4 linked regions of the Homo sapiens genome follow. The protein of the gene in region 1 purifies or fractionates together with the protein of each later gene. This does not show direct contact. Each region holds a gene or a part of one and is shown in the gene's direction. Other genes may lie near its edges.

Region 1 (3,500 bases):
AAAACGACAGATGTCGGCCCCTCCCTGCACACACTCCCAGGCCCCTGGGCCTAGCTGCTCAGGAGAGGCTGGCCCGCTCACCCTGGCACCATGCCCAGCCATGATCTGGGCACCAGGCCTAGATAGGATAGACAGGACAGCAGGCTGGAGAGCAACAACCCTGATGGACAAGGTCACTGCTCTGTCCTGAGCTCTGACACCCCCGACTAGGCACTGTGGGAGGTGGGGAGCCACAGACGGCCACAGTCCTTGTCCTCAAGAATCCCATCGGAGGGGAACAGAGTCGGCAACCAGTGTCATCTGAATGGGAGGGACCTGGGTGCAGATTGAGTGTCATCCCAAGAGAAACAGGGTGGGGCCAGCATTGGAAGGACAGCCAGGACTGAGGGGGCATGGCCAACGTCTAACACACCACTCTCCCCACAGTGTGCCCCTGCCCCCATGGGATGGCTTGCACAGCGAGGGGCGAGTGCTGCCACACCGAATGCCTGGGGGGCTGCAGCCAGCCAGAAGACCCTCGTGCCTGTGTAGCTTGCCGCCACCTCTACTTCCAGGGTGCCTGCCTGTGGGCCTGCCCGCCAGGCACCTACCAGTATGAGTCCTGGCGCTGTGTCACAGCTGAGCGCTGTGCCAGCCTGCACTCTGTGCCCGGCCGTGCCTCCACCTTCGGCATACACCAGGGCAGTTGCCTGGCCCAGTGCCCTTCTGGCTTCACCCGTAATAGCAGCAGGTGAGTGTAGGGAGGGTGGGGGGCACCCTGGGAGCAGTGAGGAGGCCTGAGGAGGCCCAAACTGGTCCAAGGCTCAGGACATCTGCTTGCTCCTGCTAGCATATTCTGCCACAAGTGCGAGGGGCTGTGCCCTAAAGAGTGCAAGGTAGGCACCAAGACCATCGACTCCATCCAGGCGGCACAGGATCTTGTGGGCTGCACGCATGTGGAGGGAAGCCTCATCCTCAACCTTCGCCAGGGCTGTCAGTACCTACTTTGGGGCCACACCCCTCCTCCTGGTCATACCCTTCCTCCCAGACACAACCCTTACAATGACCCAACTCAGCACAATTTTCCATCATCCTGGGTCCCAGTCCTGAGGGCCCACCTTCCCGGGGCCCCCATTCAGCCCCCTTGCCCCACAGACCCATCACCTTCCTTGCTCCTACTCCAGCCCTGTCTTCCCATCCCTAGACAACCTGGAGCCACAGCTGCAGCACAGCCTGGGGCTGGTAGAAACCATTACTGGCTTCCTCAAAATCAAGCACTCCTTTGCCCTCGTGTCCCTGGGCTTTTTCAAGAACCTCAAACTAATCCGGGGAGACGCCATGGTGGATGGGTAAGGGTTAGGCCTCTGACCAGCTCCTTCTATTACACTCCTTCCTCCAACACTCCCAGAACAGTGGTGAAGAGAATGGGCTCTGGAACCAATTTTGCTACTCACTAGGCGTGTGACTCTAAGTAGGTTAACTTCTCTGGTCTTCAGTTTTCTCATCTGTAAAATAGGGCTAATATAACATTACTTACTTCTCAGGACTGTTTTGAATATTACTCAAGTTGTTATGTGTAAAGCACATAAAACAATGCCTGGAACACAGTATATACAATATAAATTACAGTCACATATAACTCTATAACAGTTGGCTATAATTGTCATCATCTGGTCCTGTCAGCTGCAGAGCAAGACTGCCTGGGTTTGAAACCCATTCCTATCATCTGCCAGTCAAGGCCTACCTATAATGTAGCCAGCATTTTTTAAAATAAAAAGAATGAGCCAGGCACGGTGGCTCACACCTGTAATCCCTGCACTTTGGGAGGCTGAGGCGGGTGGATCACTTGAGGTCAGGAATTCAAGACCAGCCTGGCCAACGTGGTGAAACCCCATCTTTACTAAAAATACAAAAAAAGTAGATGGGCATGGTGGCACGTGCCTTTAATCCCAGCTACTTGGGAGGCTGAGGCAGGAGAATTGTTTGAACCCAGAAGGTAGAGATTACAGTGAGCCGAAATCGTGCCACTGCACTCCAGCCTAGGGCCTGAGTTACAGAGAGGGACTCCATCTCAAAAAAAAAAAAAAAAAAAAAAAAAAAAAAAGAATGTTTTAAATTACCATCCAGGTCGGGCACGGTGGCTCCTGCCTGTAATCTCTGCACTTTGGGAGGGCAAGGCAGGAGGATCACCATGCGGTCAGGAGTTCAAGACCAGCCTGGCCAACATGGAGAAAACCCATCTCTACTAAAAATACAAAAATTAGCCAGGTGTGGTGGTGGGCACCTGTAGTCCCAGCTACTCAGGAGGCTGAGGCAGGAGAATCACTTGAACCTGGGAGACAGGGGTTACACTGAGCTGAGATCGTGCCACTACACTGCAGCCTGGGTGACAGAGGGAGACTCCAGCTCAAAACATACATAAATAAATAACCAACCAGGCCAGATGCGGTGGCTCGTGCCTGTAATCCTAGCACTTTGGCAAGCCGAGGTGGGAGGATCACTTGAACCTAGGAGTTAGAGACCAGCCTGGGCAACATGGTGAAACTCTGTCTCTATAAAAAATACAAAATTAGCTGACCGTGGTGGTGCATGCCTGTAGTCTCAGCTACTCAAGAGACTGAGGTGGGAGGATCACCTGAGCCCGGGAGGTCAAGGCGGCAGTGGGCCACAATTGTGCCACTGCACTCTGGCCTGGATGACAGAGTGAGGAAAAAAAAAAAAAGTTACCATCTAGTCATCTAGTCTAGTGGCTCTCTGTGGCTTCTCATGTCTCCAGACACATTGCATGTACACCGAGAGTGTCCACACCTCAGCTGGAAAGGAATGGCCCAGGCTGAGTACTACTCCTCCTGGTGTCTCCAAAGCCTCCAGAGTCTGGCACATAGCAGGTGCTCAGTTCAAAGAGAGTCGAGGGAAGGATGGGGGCAGGGAAGCTGAGGACCCCATTTCACTGATGAGGAAAACCAAAAGATGGGGTGACTTGGCAGACATCATACTCCTGGTCAGTGGCACAGAGTGGGTATGCACGAATGCCCCCGGTGTGCTGGTGTGAGCCAGCCACTGAGTGCCCCTCTCCCCGGGCCCAGCAAAACCCTTCCAGGAGGAACCCATAAGCCATCCCCTTTCCCACCCCCTGCCCCCACCTCCCCGCAGAGCAAGGTCCCCTGGCCTCCCCCAGGAACTACACTCTCTACGTGCTGGACAACCAGAACCTACAACAGCTAGGGTCCTGGGTGGCCGCGGGGCTCACCATTCCCGTGGGCAAGATCTACTTCGCCTTCAACCCGCGCCTCTGCTTGGAACACATCTACCGACTGGAGGAGGTGACAGGCACGCGAGGTCGGCAGAACAAGGCTGAGATCAACCCCCGCACCAACGGAGACCGCGCCGCCTGTGAGACCCCAACCCCAGTGCCGGTGGACACGCGGCCACACACTAGACACGCACACCCGGGGGAGGGAGAAAGCTCGAGGGGGACACTCTGAGAAGTTCTCCTCAGAGGTCTCACTGGGAATGGGATG
Region 2 (3,500 bases), on another chromosome or scaffold:
GTCTTTGCTCTTGGATGAGCCCCTTGTGGTTTTCAAAGGAACTAGCAAGTCAATTATAAATAGAAGGCTGTGTCTGTGTGTCTGCATGCACTTACTCTGTGGGACGAGGCACCCACATTACAGTGGGCAGTGAACTATTTTTCCACTTCTTTGAAGAGGGAAGAAGAAAGATTAAGAATGCTTTTCTCTTTTTGAGATAACCCACATCTCTACACACACCCACACAAATCTGTGTAAATGAACTTGACATTTTCAAAGACCTTACCTTAAGGTCTCCTCTGGAAAGCACAGCCACCCAACCTGTTATTTTAAGAAAGAAGCATTTATCTCCTAGACCCACTACTGAGGGTTCAGGGATTAGAAGGCAGCCTCTATGTGCCATAGACCTTTGGAGGGAGCTCTGAAAGCTGAATTTCCTAATATGAACAGTGCTTCGGCAAAAGTGGCCTCAGCTAACTAATCAGTGGCCTCTAGGACTTGGCTGTTTACATTTTATCCTCTGTTTCCTTCCCCACTAGTAGAAACTGTGGGACCAGCAAGTCTAAACTAATCATACTGACAAGGGAAGAGAAAAGAGTAATGTGAAAATGCAGATGCAAATAAGTATTCTCAGAAAGAGACAATTAAGCAGAGTGATTAGATGTGCTTCCCTGATCATCCGTTTCTGCCTCTTTCCATTGCACCTTGAACTCCCTAGGTGTGTATTCTTCCAGTGGTCCCACCTGTCACCTTACTGTTCAAACATTATTCGGTTCTCTTGGTCTCCTTGTGCCCTCATTCTCCATATTTGGCACCATTTTTTTCCTGCCAGCCAAAAATTCTTAAGCAGGTGTTAATTCCCACTATAATCTATGTAAACTTTAGTGTTACCACTAGTGAAAAAGTTAGTCTAGGCATCTAGCTGGAAATATTGGTACCATGGATTGTAATTATAGATTGTACAGCCTTGCAAACTCTTATTATATTACAGGTTGAACATCTCAAATCCCAAAACCTGATACTTGAACTGCTCTGGAATCCAAACCTTTTTTAGCATTGACCCAATGCTCAATAGAAATGCTCATTGGAGCATTTTGAATTCTGGATTTTTGGATTTGAGATGCTCAGCCAGGATAAATACAACTATTCCCCAATCCAGAAAAATTTTTAAATTTGAAACTTTTCTGGTCTCAAACATTTCGAGTAAGGGATACTCAGTTTGTAGTATATTTCTGCCATGTACCTGCAAGAATGTCAGCATTCCTTGTTTTACGAGTTGATGGGGATTTGTACAGAGCTAGCAAAAATTAGTATTAATAGCTGCCATATATTTAGGAGCTTTTTTTTTGGAATAGAATAAAGGTGATAAACATTATGTTCCAGTAAAACATTTTATTTTGATGCAGTAATTGGGATCTTAGAGCCAATCACGCTGAAGGTTATATGAACACCACAGGGGGAGAAGCTCATTTTCAGAAGTCTGTGGACAGATGATAGCCAGTCTTTGTCCTAATATGATCTAAAAGGGTGCACAGCTTATATAAATGAATCGCTATGTTGAGAGGCAATTATTATTTGTTGGTTGGTTAGGTGACAAGGTGACAGAATGTGGACCTCATGGTTGATGGTGATGCTTAGCTTGACTTTCTGTTGATAGAGGTGTTTGGAATGGTCATTCCCTCAATGAAGGTGAAACTCATACGGTAATTCCTCTTTTTTTTTTTTTTCCCCTTCCTTTCTCTCCTTTGCAGATGAGAAGCCCAAGGTCAACCCCAAACTCTACATGTGTGTGTGTGAAGGTCTCTCCTGCGGTAATGAGGACCACTGTGAAGGCCAGCAGTGCTTTTCCTCACTGAGCATCAACGATGGCTTCCACGTCTACCAGAAAGGCTGCTTCCAGGTTTATGAGCAGGGAAAGATGACCTGTAAGACCCCGCCGTCCCCTGGCCAAGCCGTGGAGTGCTGCCAAGGGGACTGGTGTAACAGGAACATCACGGCCCAGCTGCCCACTAAAGGTTCCCATGGACTTTTCTATTTCTAGATCAAGGGGTTTTGTTAGTGTTGTCCTGGGTCCGTGTGGGTTAAAGATCTAAGTAGCTATGAGGCATTCCACCTACATTTTGAATCAGAGGCGAAGAGCTACAAGGAAGGTCACCCTGGGTGAAGAAGAGAAAGGAACAGCCTTTTGGCATCTAAAAGAAGGATGGGCATTTTGGGGAATGTAAGCAAGGTGATGTCCATCTTGGGGACAGCTTAGCTGACCAGTTAGCTTTCTCTTGGTTGCTGTGACTCAGGTGAACAGCTCCCAATACCTTTTTATGTTACTGACCCATGATGTCATTCATAATTTCTGAAACAATTCTGCTAGTAAATACTCATCTCTGTGTCAAGTGTGTAGGGAGGAAAACAGAACGGACTGGTGACTGAGTGGAATGCCTTTCCTGTTTTATGAGGAAGGAGATAAAAGAAGGCTCACTGACCTCTTCTCCCATATCTGATGCCCAGTGACCCTATCACTGAAATTTGAAGCAGGATGAGATTTCGCACAAACCCTGTAGTTTTTGTGGAATCTTCTCTCTACCATCAGTACAGATTGCATATGCTAAGGAAACCAGTCCAGCTCTGAAACTGTTTCCCTATTAAATGAGCCCTAAATTGCAATCTTAAAGTCTCTGCAAACATTTATGTAAACTCATTCCAAGCCAAATTTATTCTCTTACCATATAGTACATTTTTAATAGGTTTAGTTATTTAATTTTGCACTCAGAAAAAAGAAACAAACCAAAAAGTGGAGGAGAGGTAACGACGAGCATCCAAAACTAGAAATGTCAGCCAGCAAGAAAGGAGGCAGAAGAACAAAAAAGCTGATGCAAGATCATGTTCTAGTAATTTTGAAGTTATGGTGATGACTTTAAGGCATATGGAAAAGGTTAAATTCTGACAAGCAAATAGGATTGAATAATCAAAGAGGGTTTTAAAGGAGATCAAGTATTTACATGGTTAAAACTAAAAGGGTCCTTGATGGAATAAAATTTACTGTTATACTTTGTGAGTTAAATTTTTATTAATTGGGTGGATGGACATAAACAAATGTCTGAATTCATACAAACATTATTATACCAACTGTGAAGTTTCTAATCTGCAGATCACTCTGCTAGACCTTGAGTTTTAATAGAAGATTTTTTTTTTTGAATTTAAGGACATTCTAATCTGATTAGCGTGGCCACAGTATTTATAATTCAGCGTTGCATTTTGTTAGTTTTACACTTTCTCATGCAAATGACATATGCCATGGAGTATGATGTATGCCAAGCTGTTGATTAGTTGGGCTTGGAAAGTTAAACAAATACGTAAAGGAAGTTAAGCTTGTGATTGGATGGCTGAAGAGACCAGTAATATGGAAATGGGTAAGGCCTCTGTAGGGAAGAACAGGGCCTGATGACATAATGTCATGGAGAGGTCTGAACCCAGGGAGTGAATCAGTGAATGAATGTCTGAATAAGCGAGTAAATGAAGAGAGG
Region 3 (3,500 bases), on another chromosome or scaffold:
CCTCCCAAGGAACCCCCTACACGTCTCGGGGCAGCACCCCCTACTCTCAGGACTCTGCCTACTCCAGCAGGTACAGAGCAGACCCCGCCTGGGGCCCCGCCCGCAAAGTCTGGGAGCTGCCACTGGGAAGAAGATGCCCAGAGTCTGTCTCCAAGAGGGAGTTGGAAATAATTTGTCCTAGTTTCTCTGTGGATTCAGTCAACAAATTGCTGTCCTCGGGGAACACACTAGCTAGGAACCCAACATATAGCTCTTCTTTTGGAGGGCAGCATAGAGGGGCTTTGGGCCCTGGGACCCAGTACGCTGTGGTTTGGTCATAGAGAGCTGAGTCCAGCTAACTCCCCTGCTTCTTCTCCAGCACCACTTCAACCTCCTTCAAGCCCCGGCGGTCAGAGAACAGCTACCAAGATGCCTTTTCCCGCCGCCACTTCTCTGCATCTTCAGCCTCCACAACCGCCTCCACGGCCATCGCCGCCACCACTGCAGCCACTGCCTCATCCTCCGCCTCTTCCTCCTCATTGTCCTCGTCCTCCTCGTCATCCTCTTCCTCCTCGTCCTCTCAGTTTCGTAGTTCTGATGCAAACTACCCAGCGTATTATGAAAGCTGGAATCGCTACCAGCGCCATACTTCCTACCCACCACGCCGGGCCACACGGGAGGAACCCCCTGGAGCCCCTTTTGCTGAAAATACAGCTGAGCGCTTCCCACCTTCTTACACCTCCTACCTGCCCCCCGAGCCCAGCCGGCCCACCGACCAGGACTACCGGCCTCCTGCCTCAGAGGCTCCACCCCCGGAGCCTCCAGAACCTGGTGGAGGCGGGGGTGGAGGAGGGCCCAGCCCTGAGAGAGAAGAAGTTCGGACTTCCCCCCGCCCAGCCTCCCCTGCCCGCTCTGGCTCCCCAGCCCCGGAGACCACCAATGAGAGTGTGCCCTTCGCCCAGCACAGCAGCCTGGATTCCCGCATCGAGATGCTGCTGAAGGAGCAGCGCTCCAAGTTTTCCTTCTTGGCCTCTGACACAGAGGAGGAGGAAGAGAACAGCAGCATGGTCCTTGGGGCCAGAGATACAGGGAGTGAGGTGCCTTCTGGGTCAGGGCATGGGCCCTGCACACCCCCTCCGGCCCCAGCTAATTTTGAGGATGTGGCACCTACAGGGAGCGGGGAGCCAGGGGCTACCCGGGAGTCTCCCAAGGCAAATGGACAGAACCAGGTGAGGTTGGGGTCAGCCAGAGGAGGCACCTGGGCTCTGGGAGTCAGGGTTGGGCCTAGGGGAGAGGGAAGGGAACCAGATGAGAAAGTAGGGCTTGGGTCAGGCAGAAGCCTTCTGTGACCCTCTTCTGCCCCCGCAGGCTTCTCCATGCTCTTCTGGAGACGACATGGAGATCTCCGACGACGACCGGGGTGGCTCACCCCCTCCGGCCCCGACGCCCCCTCAGCAGCCTCCGCCACCTCCCCCTCCCCCGCCGCCTCCTCCTCCCTACCTGGCGTCCCTTCCTCTTGGTTATCCTCCCCACCAACCTGCCTACCTCCTCCCACCCAGACCTGATGGGCCGCCGCCCCCTGAGTACCCCCCACCTCCTCCACCACCCCCGCACATCTATGACTTTGTGAACTCCTTGGAGCTCATGGACCGACTTGGGGCTCAGTGGGGAGGGATGCCCATGTCCTTCCAGATGCAGACCCAGATGTTAACTCGGCTCCATCAGCTGCGGCAGGGCAAGGGATTGATTGCCGCCTCAGCTGGCCCCCCCGGTGGGGCCTTTGGGGAGGCCTTCCTCCCGTTTCCACCCCCGCAGGAGGCAGCCTACGGCTTGCCGTATGCTCTATATGCACAGGGGCAGGAGGGCAGAGGGGCATACTCACGGGAGGCCTACCACCTGCCCATGCCAATGGCAGCCGAGCCCCTGCCCTCCTCCTCAGTCTCGGGAGAGGAGGCCCGGCTGCCACCCAGGGAAGAAGCAGAGCTGGCAGAGGGCAAGACCCTCCCGACAGCAGGCACCGTGGGCCGTGTGCTCGCCATGCTGGTCCAGGAGATGAAGAGCATCATGCAGCGAGACCTCAACCGCAAGATGGTGGAGAACGTGGCCTTCGGAGCCTTTGACCAGTGGTGGGAGAGCAAGGAGGAGAAGGCCAAGGTGAGGCCAGCGCCTGGGACCGGGGAGCCCTGGGCTTTGCAGGAGGAAATGGGCCTCTGGCTCCTCCAGGCTGCACAGCTCAGAGGAGACAGGTGATGGAGGCGAGTGGAGAGAGGCCGCAGGCCCTGCAGGCCACCCTGGGTGGGCAGGGGAGTTGAGGGGACAGAGAAGCAGGCACAGATGGGCCTGGGAGGCAGCAGAGCTTTGTCCTGGCTCCATTCCTTGCTGGCTTGCAGTGGACAAGGCCCTTAGCTCTCTTCAAGCTTTGGTCTTCCATTTTGCCACTTGTGAAGTGGGAATGGTGGCTATTTCTTAAGACTGGTGGGCGAAATGACAGACTTTTGAGAAAATGCCGTGCGGGGGCTGGGACAGGTGTGACCAAGATATGGAGCAGCAAGTAGATGCGTTCTGTATTCCTGGGGTCCGGGAGTAGGTCTCAGGCAGGAGGGAATGCCTGGGTTCTGGGCGCTGGGGCTCAGCCCCACTGCTGCCTGCAGCCATTCCAGAACGCGGCCAAGCAGCAAGCCAAGGAGGAGGATAAAGAGAAGACGAAGCTGAAGGAGCCTGGCCTGCTGTCCCTCGTGGACTGGGCCAAGAGCGGGGGCACTACGGGCATCGAGGCTTTCGCCTTTGGGTCAGGGCTGAGAGGGGCCCTGCGGCTGCCTTCATTCAAGGTACTCAGAACTGTCGTTTTGTGGGGTAGGGTGGGGAGAGGGAGAGGGGGCCCCCTTCCTTGGGGTAGGGGTGGTCAGGAACCATGAGTGTTTGAGTTTTTTCTTTTTTTTGAGATGGAGTCTTACTCTGTTGCCCAGGCTGGAGTGCAGTGGCCTGATCTCAGCTCACTGCAACCTCCGCCTCCCGGGTTCAAGCGATTCTCCTGCCTCAGCCTCCCGAGTAGCTGGGGTTACAGGCACCCGCCACCACGCCTGGCTAATTTTTGTATTTTTAGTAGAGCTGGGGTTTCACTGTGTTGGCCAGGCTGGTCTTGAACTCCTAACCTCAGGTGATCTACCTGCCTTGGCCTCCCAAAGTGCTGGGATTACAGGAGTGAGCCACCGTGCTCTGCCTGAGTGTTTGAGCTCTAAACAGGCCCCATCTTTTCCCCATCCCCCAGGTAAAGCGGAAAGAGCCATCGGAAATTTCCGAGGCCAGTGAGGAAAAGAGGCCTCGTCCCTCCACTCCTGCTGAGGAAGATGAAGACGGTGAGCAGGGTCAGGCATAAGGAGAAGGGGTGTGCTGCGTGGGTTCTGATGGGAGAGCAAGAGGTAGGGATGAAGGGGTCAGGTCGTCCTGAGGGCACAGCCAGGTGGAGGTGCAGGGTTGAAATGCAGCAGTTCTGAGAGGTATGGGATGCACCAGGTAGAGTT
Region 4 (4,074 bases), on another chromosome or scaffold:
GCAGGGGCACACGCGTTCACGCCCCTCCGGGGACTATTCGGCTTTCCGATCTCCTCTCCTCTCCCTTCCGTCCACCCTTTAGAAGAGCTCACGGAGCTGCGGGGCTTCCCGGTGCCTGCTCAGAGGCCAGGCAGGGCATCTCCCCGCCGTGCCCGTGCCTCCCCCCGGGCTCCTGGGAGACCCCCCATCTGGCCTTCCTTTCTCATTCAGACACTGTCGGGGGACGCTCGGGGTTTGATGAGGGAGTGAGGCTAGAACTTTCGTAACTAGCCCACCCTGCTTTGTCTCCTGCGCCAGATACCCACCCATTCCCATGGCCACGAGCCCTAGCGGCCCTGCGGGACTCTATAGCCACCCCAACAGAAGGAAGGGGCTGGCATCCAGTACCGAATCCTCGAACTGGAGGCCTGGTGCCTTCCCTCTTCTAGCCGAATAGAGAGGTAGGGATGCGGAAGGGAAGGGCCACGGAGGAGAGAACTCAGAAAATGTCCGGCGAAATGCACGCCCCTACATAAGCATCCCGATCCGGGAACCCTGCCCCCTTGGCCAGGATGTCCGCCCCCTATCCCAAGCCTTCGCTGCTCCCTAACTCCCGCACACTCCCGCCTTCCCCAGGCAACACAGAGGAGCCCATTGTCAGCCCAGAGATTCCAGGCCCGAGGAGATGGAGGGAAAGGAGGGCGGGCAAGCCCCCGGGGGGTTGGGGAATCCCCTGATTTCCCGGCCCTCCGCTCTCTGCTAGGCAGGCAGGGGCCTGAAGGTCTCATTTGAGCCCTGGGTCCTGCCAAAGTCTAGAAACCGTTGAGAGAAGAGGATCCCGGGCGAGTTAGAGCGGGGAGGCTTTCCAGCCGCAGGAAGACCCCAGTTCTGGGAAGGGGCGGCCCAAGGGAATTCACGCACGCCCCAGCCTTTGGAGCATCCCTTGCCGAGGCTAAACTGATCCCGCGGGGAGCGAGGCCGTGGCGGGAAAAGAGGGGCATCCTCGGCTGGGCGGGCCTCCGAGGGTCAGGGTCGAGGTTACCCGCTGGAGGGCGGGGCGGAGAAGAAAGAAGGTTGCCGGTGAACGGGACGGATAGGCTGGGGACGCCCGGGGAACGGCAGAGATCTCGGCGCGGGAGACAGAGTCCCGGCAAGGGGTCCCGCGCGGAGGCGGGGGCGGGCGCTGAAGGGCGGGGCGGGGAGGGGCGGCCGTCTCGGCCCTCCCTGGCGGGGCCCCGCGGCCTGGAAGCCGGAGCGGGCCGAGCCGCCACCGCGGCCGGAGCTGTCCCTTAGCCAGACCCGGCGAGACACGAGCGGCGGGAGGGAGGCGGTGGCGCGCCCGGCCCCGCCCGCCCGACCAAGCGTCGGACGCGGCCCGGCGCCGAGCCATGGTGAGTCCAGCGTCGCAGCCCCCTGGGTCCCCTCGGCCTTCGCGCAGCCCGCTCCGGGCCCCCAAGTCCTCAGCCTGGTGCCTCCCGAGCCTGCCTCGGACTGTTCGGCCCCTCTGGGACTCTCCTCCCTCCCATCCCCCCTTCTTCGATTTGTCTGTCTGCCCGACTGTTTAGCTCTGTCCCCACCGGGTATTGCCCTCACCCTTTCTTCCTCCTCTCCTCCGCCTCCTCCCCCATCCTCCCTTGGGTCTCTCCCCTAATCCACACACCTCCCCGCTCCCCGCCCTCCTCTGTCCTGACCTGTGCCTTCCTTTCCTGGAGCTTCCCTCCCCCTCCTGGTCCGAGCTCCTTACCCGCGGGAGACCCCTGCGGGTTGGTCCTGCAGCGACCCTGGAAGAGGCCCGGCCCCTCGGGTCATGAGAACTGACCTGCATGGAACCACCATTTTCCATCCCTGTCCCCAACCCGGTGAGGCAGGCCCACCCATCCGGCCCTAGGGGACTGGCCACAGCTGTGGCTGGGCCGGGTCCCGGGGCATGGCCAAAGAGGGAAATTCCCGCAGAGAAAAAGAGCTGCCTCAGGATAGTTGGGGGTGCTTGGGGGGGAGCTCACAGTACCAGGGGGCGTGACACTGCCAGAGCCGACCAGAGTTTGCGGAGGAGGAAAGTGCCCCAGAGCTCTTGCTGCAGGGAACTGAAGGGCTGCCTCAGGGCACTCCTGCTACAGAGGGGAGGGAACACGAGCCGGAGCTCCCTGCAGGGACTAGGGGACCCTGGCAGCAGCAACTTGGGGCGCTGGACGCTGGAGGGTACGCTAAGGAGAAGCCCACACCAACAGGAGTGAACACTGCCCTGGGAACTTTCACTGCAGAGTACTCTGAAGCACCGCTGCGAGAGTGGGCACTGCCAGAGAGAGCGCCCACTGCAAAGAGGGCGGGGGCATGGCCAAGGGGCCGCTCGCTGCAGAGTGGAGGAGGGGGAGAGGCCTTGCCAGGGGGAGCTCACCGCAGGGAGTGGAGGAGGGGCAGGGGCACTACTGGGGCCGCCCCTCTACGGAGGGAAGGGCACCCTCTGGCAGGGAGGCTGGAGGAAAAAGAAAGAGGAACTGGGCCAGGGAGAGCTGACTCAGTCTCTCTGGTCTCCTCTCTGGTCCCCGCCGGCAGGAGGCTGGGTCTCCGTGCTCCCGCCCGCCGCCTCCCTCCCCAGACCCCTCCTCCCCTCCTGCCGCGGCCGTTTCCTGTGGCTGAGACTCTCGCTCAGCCATGAGCTCACCGCCCCTAATGGGTTGCAGCTGCCTCGCTGCTCAAGCCCTAGCTCCGCACTCCCTGCCTTGGAGCAGACGGCCCCACTCTGCCTCACCCCCGCCCATCTCCACCTTCCCCCCACCCACGCGCACTGCGTCCGCCTGGTCCCGGGAACACTGGGGGTCTGTCTGCTCGCCCACACACCTTGGGGCCGGGTCTGCGCGCTGACGCACTGAATGTCCCGTCTCTGGAGTGGTTGCCCTAACTTCCCAGACGGTCAAGACAAACGGGCAACTCTGGATGGAGCTCAGAGAAAAATAAGCTATTTTGTTTTATGGCAAAGGCAAGGTATGGGGGTAGGGAAGGTAGAGACCAAGGTAAAGGCTGCATTGAGTATCCCCTTCCCCATTTACAGCAAAAAAGAAAAAAAAATTCCAGTAAAAGGGACTTCAAAGACTGTCTTGAAAAAGAAGTTTGCAAAGGAATAGCCCAAGGGGTGGTTGTTTAGGTTAGGAGTTGGAGAAAGACGTCTCATTGACTCACTTAGGGAGGGGAGTCTGGATGAAGCAGGGCTGAGTCTTTTTGAGACTCCTAGTGGAGGTTGGCAGAGAGAGGTCCCACTGGAATCAGAAAAGATCAGCTCGAATGCGCACCATCAAGGCCTCCTCCTCCCTTCCCACAAGTTCCTCTTGTGACTTTTTTCTCTTTCAACTGCCCCCACCCGATTCTTTGTAATCCAATCCCACATGCTCTAAGATTGGGTGATTGCTTCAGAGCCACTGTGGGAGAAGGAAGAGGGATGCTAGAAAGACCCAAGACAGTCACAGACAGTCTTTCCATCCTCCTCTTTCCACCAAATGACCATCTCTAGCATATAAATGAGCATCTCTCTTTCACCAAATGATCATCTCTGGGACATAATTGTGGGTGATGGCACCTCCACCTAAGATGGGGAGCCCTGGATGGTGGGTCTTATGGGAAGGGATTTGCAGGATGGCTGTGTGGAAATCTCCCTCATCCCCTCGAGTTCTCAGCCATAAGCTCAGTCCCCTGATAGCCCAGAAGCCTGTCTTTTCTCTCCTGGGAAAGATCTATGCAATCACCCCAACTCACGAGCACCCGGAACAGCCCTGATCAGGGGCATTCACAACAAATTCTCCCTGGATCTCCAAAGCCAAGGTCTCAGAGCGGGAGTGTTGAGCGCCCTGCCAGGTTTGTGCACTCTGGCCCAGCCCCACTCCTGTTCTGGGCTCATCAGCCAGCATTTCCTGAGTGCTCACTTTTTGCCCACATTGTACAATCGGGGCTTTGGAGAACACAGCCAACCCCAGACCAGTGCAGCTCCCAAGGAGCCATGATTGGGTGATCTCTAGGGATCTGTAGCCTGGTCCTATCTCTACAGGAGCCTGAGCCAGTGGAGGACTGTGTGCAGAGCACTCTCGCCGCCCTGTATCCACCCTT

What was found. Proteins that work in one complex are often made in the same cells at the same time.
Region 2: the proteins of INSRR (region 1) and ACVR1 purify together in Homo sapiens (affinity purification with mass spectrometry; one large-scale study listed by BioGRID and IntAct). This does not show direct contact.
Region 3: the proteins of INSRR (region 1) and SETD1A purify together in Homo sapiens (affinity purification with mass spectrometry; one large-scale study listed by BioGRID and IntAct). This does not show direct contact.
Region 4: the proteins of INSRR (region 1) and ARHGEF40 purify together in Homo sapiens (affinity purification with mass spectrometry; one large-scale study listed by BioGRID and IntAct). This does not show direct contact.

Annotation. Positions count from the first base shown.
Region 1 is NC_000001.11:156,849,118-156,852,617, reverse strand, and holds part of INSRR (insulin receptor-related protein precursor), read left to right. Parts: intron 1-426; coding exon 427-730; intron 731-829; coding exon 830-972; intron 973-1,183; coding exon 1,184-1,328; intron 1,329-3,157; coding exon 3,158-3,372; intron 3,373-3,500. UniProt on the Homo sapiens protein: Receptor with tyrosine-protein kinase activity. Functions as a pH sensing receptor which is activated by increased extracellular pH. Activates an intracellular signaling pathway that involves IRS1 and AKT1/PKB.
Region 2 is NC_000002.12:157,778,831-157,782,330, reverse strand, and holds part of ACVR1 (activin receptor type-1 precursor), read left to right. Parts: intron 1-1,730; coding exon 1,731-1,994; intron 1,995-3,500. UniProt on the Homo sapiens protein: Bone morphogenetic protein (BMP) type I receptor that is involved in a wide variety of biological processes, including bone, heart, cartilage, nervous, and reproductive system development and regulation.
Region 3 is NC_000016.10:30,964,254-30,967,753, forward strand, and holds part of SETD1A (histone-lysine N-methyltransferase SETD1A), read left to right. Parts: coding exon 1-70; intron 71-358; coding exon 359-1,208; intron 1,209-1,347; coding exon 1,348-2,133; intron 2,134-2,566; coding exon of another isoform or gene 2,567-2,630; coding exon 2,631-2,807; intron 2,808-3,247; coding exon 3,248-3,335; intron 3,336-3,500. UniProt on the Homo sapiens protein: Histone methyltransferase that catalyzes methyl group transfer from S-adenosyl-L-methionine to the epsilon-amino group of 'Lys-4' of histone H3 (H3K4) via a non-processive mechanism.
Region 4 is NC_000014.9:21,069,030-21,073,103, forward strand, and holds the start of ARHGEF40 (rho guanine nucleotide exchange factor 40), read left to right. Parts: upstream 1-1,274; 5' UTR 1,275-1,367; coding exon 1,368-1,370; intron 1,371-1,798; coding exon of another isoform or gene 1,799-1,822; exon of another isoform or gene 1,823-1,843; intron 1,844-4,015; coding exon 4,016-4,074. UniProt on the Homo sapiens protein: May act as a guanine nucleotide exchange factor (GEF).